Homo sapiens: one gene and its partners. The protein of the gene in region 1 purifies or fractionates together with the protein of each later gene. This does not show direct contact. Each region holds a gene or a part of one and is shown on either strand. Other genes may lie near its edges.

Evidence for each region.
Region 2: the proteins of TSPYL6 (region 1) and DDX24 purify together in Homo sapiens (affinity purification with mass spectrometry; 3 studies listed by BioGRID and IntAct, with this or other methods). This does not show direct contact.
Region 3: the proteins of TSPYL6 (region 1) and USP12 purify together in Homo sapiens (co-immunoprecipitation; 3 studies listed by BioGRID and IntAct, with this or other methods). This does not show direct contact.

What each region holds. Positions count from the first base shown.
Region 1 is NC_000002.12:54,254,088-54,257,914, reverse strand, and holds the start of TSPYL6 (testis-specific Y-encoded-like protein 6), read left to right. Parts: upstream 1-1,685; 5' UTR 1,686-1,763; coding exon 1,764-2,996; 3' UTR 2,997-3,827.
Region 2 is NC_000014.9:94,079,103-94,082,702, reverse strand, and holds the start of DDX24 (ATP-dependent RNA helicase DDX24), read left to right. Parts: upstream 1-1,500; 5' UTR 1,501-1,584; intron 1,585-2,955; 5' UTR 2,956-2,960; coding exon 2,961-3,600. UniProt on the Homo sapiens protein: ATP-dependent RNA helicase that plays a role in various aspects of RNA metabolism including pre-mRNA splicing and is thereby involved in different biological processes such as cell cycle regulation or innate immunity.
Region 3 is NC_000013.11:27,074,196-27,077,922, reverse strand, and holds part of USP12 (ubiquitin carboxyl-terminal hydrolase 12), read left to right. Parts: intron 1-2,534; coding exon 2,535-2,732; intron 2,733-3,727. UniProt on the Homo sapiens protein: Deubiquitinating enzyme that plays various roles in the regulation of the immune response and inflammation.

The DNA of each region.
Region 1 (3,827 bases):
ATGCTATTTTTGTGGAAACATTTTTTTAAGCTACTGATTCCATTTGTTTATTGTCTCTAGGTCTATTTAGATTTTCTATTGCATTTCAGTCCGTGTTGATAAGTTATACATTTCTATGAAGCCATATATTTCATCTAAGTTTGAAAATGTATTGGCATAAAGCTGTCTAACATCCTGTCTTATATTTATTTAAACCATCAATGTGACTATAATTTTCTCTCCAAATATTGCTTATTTTCTCTCTCCTTTTATTATTAATCTTTGGTTAATGCTCTGTATTGTCTTACATAAATTTCTCCTGTTTATTATTACCTTTTCTCTATGTCCTTTGGCCTAATTCTATTGGTCTTTTATATATTTCTCAAATTATTTTTCATGATGAGTGATACAGCACTTGCCAATATTTCCAGTTTCCTCCTTCCAGGCTCAAGAGAAGATTACACCTCCCTGTCCTATTAAAGTTAGACAAGGCCAACTGACTAGCTGTAGCCAATGATTTATGTCACTTCTGACAGAAACATTTAAAAACCTATGCATGGGGAAAGAATTGTCTTTTCAATAAACAGTGCTGGGTCAATTAGATATTCATATGGAAAAAAAGAAATTGTGACCCCACTCATAAAAATCAATTCCAGATGGATGGCATATATAAATTTGAACAATCTTGGTGAGATAAGATTCCTCTTTTTTTCTTCTTTTTAAAAATAGAGATGGGGTCTTGCTGTGTTGCCCAGGCTGGTCTCCAACTCCTAGGCTCAACTGATCCTCCCGTCTCCGCCTCTCAAAGTGCTAGGATTACAGGTGTGAGGCACTGTGCCCAGGTGAGAGGTAAGATTTCTTAAACAGAGCAGAAAAACACTAAGGTAAAGGGGAAAATGACAAATTGGCACATATTAAGATGAAAAACTTTTGTTCTTCAAAAGGTACCATTAAGATGGTGAAAAAGTAGGCCAGGTACGGTTGCTCATGCCTGTAATCCCAGCACTTTGGGAGGCCAAGATGGGCGGATCACCTGAGGCCAGGAGTTCAGACCAGCCTGGCCAACATGGCAAAACCATGTCTTGACTAAAAATACAAAACAAAACAAAACAAAACAAACAAACAAAAAAACCGGGCATGGTGGTGGGCGCCTGTAATCCCGGCTACTTGGGAGGCTGAAGCAGGAGAATCGCTTGAACTTGGGAGGCGGCAGCTTCAGTGAGCTGAGATCATGCCATTGTACTCCAGCCTCGGCGACAGCGAAACTACGAGTCCAAAAGAAAAGTAACCCCACAGAGTGGGAGGAAATATTTGTAATACCTATACTGGAAGAGAAATATTTGTAATACCTATACTGGAAGAATGACTGACTAGTATCTAGCATGTACAAAGGCTTCCTACAAATCCATATGAAAAATAACGTCAGCCCAGTAGAGAAATAGGGAGAAGCCTCGGATACTGCACAAGAGAGAATATCCTAGTGGCCAACAAACACATGAGAAGGTTCTCAGCTCATTAGACTTTGGCTAAATGCAAATTAAAACCACCATGTAATATCATTACTCATCCAGCACGATGGCTAAAATAACAAAGACGTAAAGACACCACCACAGACTCGCGAGACTGAGGAGTGAGTGTCGCGAGACTGAGGGGTGGGTGTCGCGAGACTGAAGAGTGGGCGGCGCAAATGGGCGAGGTGTTTACTCGCCATTTTGTGTGAGGAACGTTGACGCTACCTACCTCTGGCCTGGCCTCTACCCACTGCTGCCCTGGCCGCTACCAACATGAGCCTCCCGGAGAGTCCTCACAGCCCCGCTACTCTCGACTATGCTCTGGAAGACCCGCACCAGGGCCAGAGGTCCCGAGAAAAGAGCAAGGCGACAGAGGTAATGGCAGATATGTTTGATGGCCGCTTGGAGCCAATCGTGTTCCCACCGCCCCGGCTTCCAGAGGAGGGGGTCGCGCCCCAGGATCCCGCAGATGGTGGCCATACTTTCCACATCTTGGTCGATGCGGGTCGCAGTCATGGAGCCATCAAAGCGGGGCAGGAAGTGACTCCACCACCCGCGGAGGGCCTAGAAGCGGCCTCTGCCTCGCTGACAACTGACGGCAGCCTCAAAAATGGCTTTCCGGGTGAAGAGACGCACGGCCTAGGTGGGGAGAAGGCTCTAGAAACCTGTGGGGCAGGGAGGTCGGAGTCTGAAGTGATTGCAGAGGGGAAGGCCGAGGACGTGAAGCCTGAGGAGTGTGCCATGTTCTCAGCCCCAGTGGATGAGAAGCCAGGAGGCGAAGAAATGGACGTGGCGGAAGAAAACAGAGCAATAGATGAGGTAAACAGGGAGGCAGGGCCTGGGCCCGGGCCCGGGCCCCTGAACGTGGGTCTCCACCTGAACCCCCTGGAGTCCATCCAGCTGGAACTGGACTCCGTGAATGCAGAGGCTGACAGGGCGCTCCTGCAGGTGGAGCGCAGGTTTGGGCAGATTCATGAATACTACCTGGAGCAGAGGAATGACATCATTCGCAATATCCCGGGCTTCTGGGTCACTGCTTTCCGCCACCACCCACAGCTGTCTGCCATGATTAGAGGCCAAGATGCCGAGATGTTAAGCTACTTAACCAATTTGGAAGTGAAGGAGCTCAGACACCCTAGGACAGGCTGCAAGTTTAAGTTCTTCTTTCAAAGAAACCCTTACTTCAGAAACAAGCTGATTGTAAAGGTGTATGAGGTCAGATCCTTCGGCCAAGTGGTGTCTTTTTCCACTCTAATCATGTGGCGCCGGGGCCATGGACCCCAGTCCTTCATTCATAGGAACCGACATGTCATCTGCAGCTTCTTCACCTGGTTTTCAGACCACAGCCTTCCAGAGTCCGACAGGATTGCTCAGATTATTAAAGAGGACCTCTGGTCAAATCCACTGCAGTACTACCTGTTGGGTGAAGACGCCCATAGAGCTAGACGTCGCCTGGTAAGGGAGCCAGTGGAGATCCCCAGGCCCTTTGGGTTCCAGTGTGGTTAACCTTTGCCTTTGGAATTACTCCTGCAGAAGGTTGCCTGCCACCACCAGCTGGACCTGAGCTTGGGCAACAGCATTAGGTATGCCCTTTACTTTTTTTGTTCTGACTTTCCTGTACCCTCTGTTTAAACTTTCCGTTCTCTCAACCTGAAGATTGAGACCTTGGTGGCTGTGCTGCTCCCCTTTCACCTGGTCGTCTTGCTATTCTGCATTAACATCACATGCTCCCAGCCGATGGGTCACATCCTTCTAAGCGAAGCGAATGATGCTGTAGGTTACACTGTATTTACCTTTGTTTGGACTCGGTTTGTTCCCAGGACCTCTGGTCTGGCTCCTCCTACTTGGATTTCTAGCTGTGTCTAAGAACCTATTCAGCTCACCCTGCTCTGCATCTGACAGTACAGGTGCATGGCCTGTGGACAATTGCTGGGCATTAATGAAGTCAAGGGAGAACAGCAGGGGGCAAGTTGGTCTGTGTGAATTATGGGACCCCATTACTTTTCCTGAGACTGGTCACCTATTGCTGCCTGCTACTGGCTATTCCCAAGTACTGCTACTTGGGCAGCTCCCTGCTGAGTGAACATATCCCAGACCATTGCCAGCTCCACTCTCTGGTTTCTAATAAACAGGGATCTCCAGAACACTGGTGGTGGACACAGCTTTCCTGTCAGCACACAAAAGACCTGTTCCTCTTCCAAAAGACCTCTCTTTACCACCACCACCCTCATCACTCAGAAACCCTACTGTTTGTTAGACAGGTGGTTGAGGGGACATGTCAGACCCTATCCTCATGGCAAGGTTAATATGTTGGTGTTCTTGACAAGTACCAGGCTT
Region 2 (3,600 bases), on another chromosome or scaffold:
GCTGTCATCCAGGCTTTGTTGTTCTACTTACAGAGCACAGGCAGATTATATTTAGCGTAATTCTTAAGAGACCTAAGATTTTTATAATAGAATGGTAAACAAGCACTGGCTTCAATCCAAAGTCACTAGCTGCATTAGCCTCTAACAAAAGAGTGAGCTTGGCCTTTGAGGCCAGACATTGACCTCTCTAGCTATGAAAGTCCTTGATGGCGTCTTCTTCCAATAGAAGGCTGTTTTGTCTACATTGACTACTTGCTGTTCAGTGGCCACCTTCATCAACGATCTTACCTAGATCTTGGGGATAACTTGCTGCAGCTTCTCCATCAGCATTTGCTGCCTCATCTTACACTTTCATGTTCTGGAGACGGCTTCTTTCCTTAAACCTCATGAAATAATCTCTTCTAGCTTCAAACTTCTATAGCTTCCTCACCTCTCTCAGTCATCATAGAATAGAAGAGAATCAGGGCCTTGCTTTGGATTCGGTTTTGGGTTTAGGGGATGCTGTAGCCGGTTTTATTTTCTATCCAAACCACTAAAATTTTCTCCAAATCAGCAATAAACTGTTTCGCTTTCATATCATTCATGTGTTCATTAGAGTAAAATGTTTAATTTCCTTCAGTAACTTTTCCTTTGCATTCACAAACTGGCTAACTTTTTGGTGCAAACTTTCAGCCTAGCTTTCAGCCTATCTTGCCTTTTGACATCCCTTCCTCACTAAGCTTAACCATTTCTAGCTTTTGAGTTAAAGTGAGAGATGTGCGACTCTTTCTTTCACTTGAACACTTAGAGGCCCATTGTAGGGTTATTAATTGACCTAATTTCAACACTGTTGTGTCTCAGGGAATAGAGACCCAAGGAAAGGGAGAGAGAAGGAAGAACGGCCTGTCAGTGGATTAGTCTGAACACACACAACATTTATCAATTACGTTTGTATCTTATATGGGCACAGCTCATGGCGCCCCAAAACAATTACAATACAAGGAACACTCATCACACGTCACCCTTGTAGCAGAGCACATCTCCCTATGATCTAGGTACGAGCATTGTACCTAGGATGGACGCGTTCGTCCTCTTACCTTCGGGAACGCCCTACTCTGTCTACGGAGTAAAGTACTTAATAAACTTGCTTTTGCTTTGCTATGCGGACTCACCCTGAATTCTTTCCTGTGCAAGATCCAAGAACCCTCTCTTGGGGTCTGGATCGAGACCCCTTTCCGGTAACGAAACTACACTAAGAATACAAGAAAACTTACGTTACTGTGCGGGAGCTGACAAAGTCTCTCGCCGGAGGGAGCACACAGAATTTCACCTTCTCCGGCCTTTTCCCAAGCTGGCAGGAGTAAAGCTGTAAGAGGAGGTGCCAGCGCCCCAAGCCAGCTCTCCCGCCGGCACTGCTGCGGTCCGCGAGGCAGCCAATCAGGTAGCTGAGTTTGCCATAGGGGCGGGACTTCCTCCCCAGCGCGCACGAGTACGTGCGTGGAGGTCCCGCCCCGGAACTGCAGTTGCTGCTGCAGCTGAGGTACAGCGGCGGTTTCTGAGGTTCTTCACTCGCGACTGACGGAGCTGCGGTGGCGTCTCCACACGGTGAGTACCAAAACGAGCGGGGTTGGAGCCGACTCTGGAGAGGGGCTGAGGCCAGGAACCCGGGTTCCTATCGCGGGTCGCTCTGGGCCGGTGGGTTCCCGGGTCCAGAGAGGGCGGCCGCCGGCCCAAGCCGTCCAACCGAGCTGCGTGCCACGGTCCCCGCGCCTTGGGCTCCTTGTCCGGTCATCAGAGCCTGACGGCCTTGGCTTCTCGGCTTCTCGGTTTCTCGGTTTCGTGCGCGCGTTCGTGCCTGAGACAAAGCGAGAGGGCCGCGCGGGACCGGCGTCACGAGGAGACAGAGGCCCTTCTACTCTGCCTGGCGCTCTCCGTGTCCTCGCCCGGTTCGCGTGGCACCCCTCGCCCTCTCCTTGTTGAACCCCGCGTGTTTCTTTGTGTTTTTTTTTGTTTGTTTTTTGTTTTTTTGCCGTGGCGCAGCGGGTCCGGCGGGCACTGTGTGCGAACGTGCTCTCCTCGCCGGGCGCCATGCTCAGCGGTTTTTTTTGACGTGCGTCACTTTTTCGTAGTGGCGTATAAGGATTCTGTGGGACAGATGTCCTCGTTTTTCCCATTGTGCAGACTGGGAAATAAGAGACTCAGAGATTAATACGTCCACCGCAGAGCCACAGCTGACAAGTGGTGGATCTGGATTTGAACCAAAGTTTACCTTGGTCTTTTTCACGGAATCTGTTATCTTTCTTGGCCTTTCTGAAAAGGAAAAACCTGGATCGAGTTCCACCCAAACGAGTTGGGCCTAAATGGCCATTAAGCCACTTAAAATATGATGAAGAAACTGGATGGGTTTTAAGACGCTTGGCAAAGGAAAGGATGGTGGAGCAGGCATTTGCTCTCTCAGGCAAGGCTTGAGAAGGAAGCAAGCGCAGTACGCTTTTAATAAAGCTCACCCCTCCTGCCCCCACAAGAAAAACCCCTGAGATTCTTACTCTGCCTTCAGAACGACTTAGGTGTGGCAGGTTTCATCCTCCGTGCTTTACATAATTTTCTTTATTTACATAAAATGTACAACTTAGATATTGTTAGGTACCCTCCCCCCTTTTTATAGATGAGAGCACTGAAGTTCAGAGAGGAGTGGGTGGCACTATCCAAGGTCACACAGGCAGTAAGTGTTGGATTTGGAATTCAAACCAGGTCTAGCTCATATGTCTTTGTTCCATCACATGTGTACCCTGTGTTCCAGGCAAAGCTGTCTGTTCTGTGGTATTCTTTGTTCTTCTCTAGGTGGGAGCAACTGTGTGATAGCCATCTTTGTATCCTCAGTTCTTTGTAGGGCCTAGTTGCTTAGAAAATATTTGTTACATCAGAACCCTCTGCTTCTCAGACACCAACCTAATAGAACATGTATCTCCTTTTCAGCAACCATGAAGTTGAAGGACACAAAATCAAGGCCAAAGCAGTCAAGCTGTGGCAAATTTCAGACAAAGGGAATCAAAGTTGTGGGAAAATGGAAGGAAGTGAAGATTGACCCAAATATGTTTGCAGATGGACAGATGGATGACTTGGTGTGCTTTGAGGAATTGACAGATTACCAGTTGGTCTCCCCTGCCAAGAATCCCTCCAGTCTCTTCTCAAAGGAAGCACCCAAGAGAAAGGCACAAGCTGTTTCAGAAGAAGAGGAGGAGGAGGAGGGAAAGTCTAGCTCACCAAAGAAAAAGATCAAGTTGAAGAAAAGTAAAAATGTAGCAACTGAAGGAACCAGTACCCAGAAAGAATTTGAAGTGAAAGATCCTGAGCTGGAGGCCCAGGGAGATGACATGGTTTGTGATGATCCGGAGGCTGGGGAGATGACATCAGAAAACCTGGTCCAAACTGCTCCAAAAAAGAAGAAAAATAAAGGGAAAAAAGGGTTGGAGCCTTCTCAGAGCACTGCTGCCAAGGTGCCCAAAAAAGCGAAGACATGGATTCCTGAAGTTCATGATCAGAAAGCAGATGTGTCAGCTTGGAAGGACCTGTTTGTTCCCAGGCCGGTTCTCCGAGCACTCAGCTTTCTAGGCTTCTCTG
Region 3 (3,727 bases), on another chromosome or scaffold:
ACCACTTTTTTTTTTAAAACAATGACAGTGATCAAGACCTCCCTAATGTAACCTCCCTCCCCACAAGTTTGAATGGAAGGAAAGCCAGAATCCTATAAATTCTTTGGTGTTTTGGTGACCTTAGTGTTTTGAGCAGGAAATCAACTTCTTTTTTCTTCCTTCTGCTGCAAAATCTACATAATGAGTTTCAGACTCCTTACACGTATGTTCAAGCAGTTTTCTGCTTTTTTTTGGAGCCATTTCAATATGAGGGAAATTTTGTAAGCTAGTCTCTCATCATCTTTAAAATATGGCTCCACACATATTTTTGCTTGACAATTCCATGGGTAGTTGGTTTCTTTGTGGTAGCCAGCACTTCTCCTCTGGGAGGATCTTTGGCAAATAGGATTCATATTCTTCATGTGTTATCTTATTAAACATATTGTATCTGCTATTATTGAGATATTTTCTCTTTTCTGCATTTGGACTCCTCCCCTTGTGTAATTTCTAAAAGCACATTTTCCCTAACCATCGGGCCATGTTCATTCTCTTTCCTCCTCCTAATCTTACCTGACTGCCATTTATTAATAGTGCACTGACACTCATTTTATGCTCAGAAAATTCTTCTTTTGCATCTACCATCCATTGGAAATTCTCAAAGGATACCTTGTTGTTTTGTAAAGATTTCTTTTCAGTAACTCTATGTGGGTTTAATAAAAGGTCTGATGTTTCATAGTTGAATTATATTTTATGTATAATTTTATATCCTGACTTCTTAAGTATTTTCTTATGTCACCTAGAAACTTTCATCAGCATTGTTTTATTTAAGTTGTACAACACTCGGTTATGTTTGAATTCTAATTTATTTCCACATTTCCTGTTGCTGAATAGTTGGGATTTTTTACAATGTAAAAGAACTCTAATAGGAGATTATTCTCATAAGGGATGTTTTTGAGATTATACATTTAATTGTATTTCCAGAAATAGGATTACTGAGACAAAGGCCATAAAGGCTCCTAATTTATATTGGTGGATTGCTTTCTAGGAGTGACTAGGTGTTTACCTTTACTTTGGCTAATGTTTCCAAAAGGCCAAGTTCATTCACTAGTAAGTAATTTAGGAATAATAAGCTATCCACCATATTTAAGAAGTGTAGAATGCAGATTTAGTATAATGTTATAAAATGATTTTTTTTTTCACTTATTAGAGGCAGTGGCTTACCATATATCACTTCTTTAAATTGTGAGGAGTATTTTGCTTCACCAGACCCATTTAAAATTCAGTTCTGCAGCATTTGGCATCTATCATATGTCAGGCATGTTGCTAGATAGTGGGGAAATAAAAATGAAGGGAATGCTTTCTAGCTGCCAAGAGTTCAGGGCCTAGAAGAAAAGAACCATAATCACCTAAAATTGTTACCATGTAATAAGCTTGACATATATAAAGTGAACCTGTAAGGTGCTGATGGAGGATTGAAGAGAGCAGGTGTATTTGTGCCAGAGGGTGTGACATTTGAGCTGAGCCATTAAAAGAAGAATAGATTTTTAGGTGAAGTAGGAGTACAAAGGCACTCTCAGGGAGAAATGGCATTTAAAGGCATAATAAAGATTGTTTAGAACATGAAGAACAGCCTGTGTTTCACAGTTAAAAACTTAACTCCTAAGTTTCCAGGTTATTTTACTCCCTTTCTAGGATATACATTGTCATTTTTCTTAATATGGAGTTATTTCTTGTCTCTGACAAGCACCTTGATTGGTCTTTAGTGCTTTTATTGTTTTAGTCTCCTATTGTCAGTCTGTACCTGCATCATATAGATTGATAGAAAAAATAGATTTCAGTCTACCCAAGTCCAAAGGAATTGTCAGTTTCAAGAAACTTGTTTTCCCTCTACCACTCTTTTTTTTTTTTTTTTTTGAGACGGAGCCTTGCTCTGTCACCCAGGCTGGAGTGCAGTGGCGTGATCTCAGCTCACTGCAACCTCCGCCTCCTGGGTTCAAGCGATTCTCCTGCCCCAGCTTCCCGAGTAGCTGGGACTATGGGCGCCTGCCACTATGCCCGGCTATTTTTTGTATTTTTAGTAGAGACAGGGTTTCACCATGTTAGCCAGGCTGGTCTTGAACTCATGACCTCAGGTGATCCACCTGCCTCGGCCTCCCAAAGTGTTGGGATTACAGGCGTGAGCCACCGCGCCTGGCCTTCCCTCTACCACTCTTGAGCACCCCGTGCATTTAGCCTTATTATAAGAGACGTGTGTTTGAAAAATACAGATTCCTTAACCAAGGACTAACGCCATTCCATCTGTTTTGGAGCCATATTGAGTGCTGTGTCAAATTATGTGGTGTGACAATGATGGGTAGGGTGGGGTCATATTAAGATGTTCAGAATGTTGTTTTGTCAGTATAAAAATAATTGATAGAAATGTGCAAAACTGGGCATTGCTGGGCTATTAAAACTGACCATTGTCTATCTGTTCATTGGATATCGTAAAGTTTGATAATTCAAGGACATGGTGGATATCTTTTATGAAATTTTGTTTTCATTTTTATTTTTAATAGGATGAAAGTTAAAAAACTGCCCATGATTCTAGCTCTACACCTGAAGAGATTTAAATATATGGATCAACTTCATCGATATACAAAACTCTCTTACCGGGTAGTTTTTCCTTTAGAACTTCGTCTGTTTAACACTTCAGGTGATGCCACCAATCCAGACAGAATGTACGACCTTGTTGCTGTTGTGGTTCACTGTGGAAGGTAATTGCAACTCCGGGGACATAGTAGTGGAATTCCTAGGTTAGAAGAGCAGGGTACATTCAAGATGTTCATGAATTATTCATATATAGAACTTTTAGAAATTCTGTATTCTCTCAAGATAATTTTATTTCAAAATGGAGTTTTAGCTTTATGTTTTATCATTTCTTAAAAATTTTATATGTTAAAATATATTGTTTTTATTTTTATTATTTATTACTCTACAAGTACTATATCTGATTTCCTAGAACTTTGAGATCTGTTAGTTTTTCTTTTCCTTTTTTGGGGTGTGTGTATAGAGGGTTGTTGGTTAAAATAAATCACTTCTGAGTTTAATTGCGTATGTTCAGCATATCAATGGTTGTAAAAAGCATTTTAAAATGGCATTGGAAATAATCTTCAAAGATTCATTTTTTGATTTTACCTGTGTGTGTATTTATCATTTCTTATTAGCCAATTTTGCTTTCTGTCTTCTTCTCATCTTCTTTTCCAACATGGTATACACATCTTCTCTGTATGAACGTACATACCTATAATTGGCCTTATTAAATACCTCAGAAAATTCTCAAACTGCAAGAGCATCACATAATCAAAACTTGTATTTGGAACATAACTGTCTTCATTGACTGCTTAGAATTTCCTTTAATAATTTTAAAGCAGGCACTCATCATTTTCCCCTTGGTTTTGGGAAACTTGTACTAACAGCATGTTTTATCCAAATAAAAAAAGTTACAGCTTTCTCATCTTCAGCCCTCCTCCCAGCTCTCTGATTAGAATTTTTTTTTTTTCTTTTTGAGATGGAGTCTTGCTCTGTGGCCCAGGCTGGAGTGCAGTGGCGCCATCTCGGCTCAGTGCAAGCTCCGCCTCCCGGGTTCACGCCATTCTCCTGCCTCTGCCTCCCGAGTAGCTGAGACTACAGGCACCCACCACCACGCCCGGCTAATTTTTTGTATTTTTAGTAGAGACGGGGTTTCACCATGTTAGCCAGGATGGTCTTA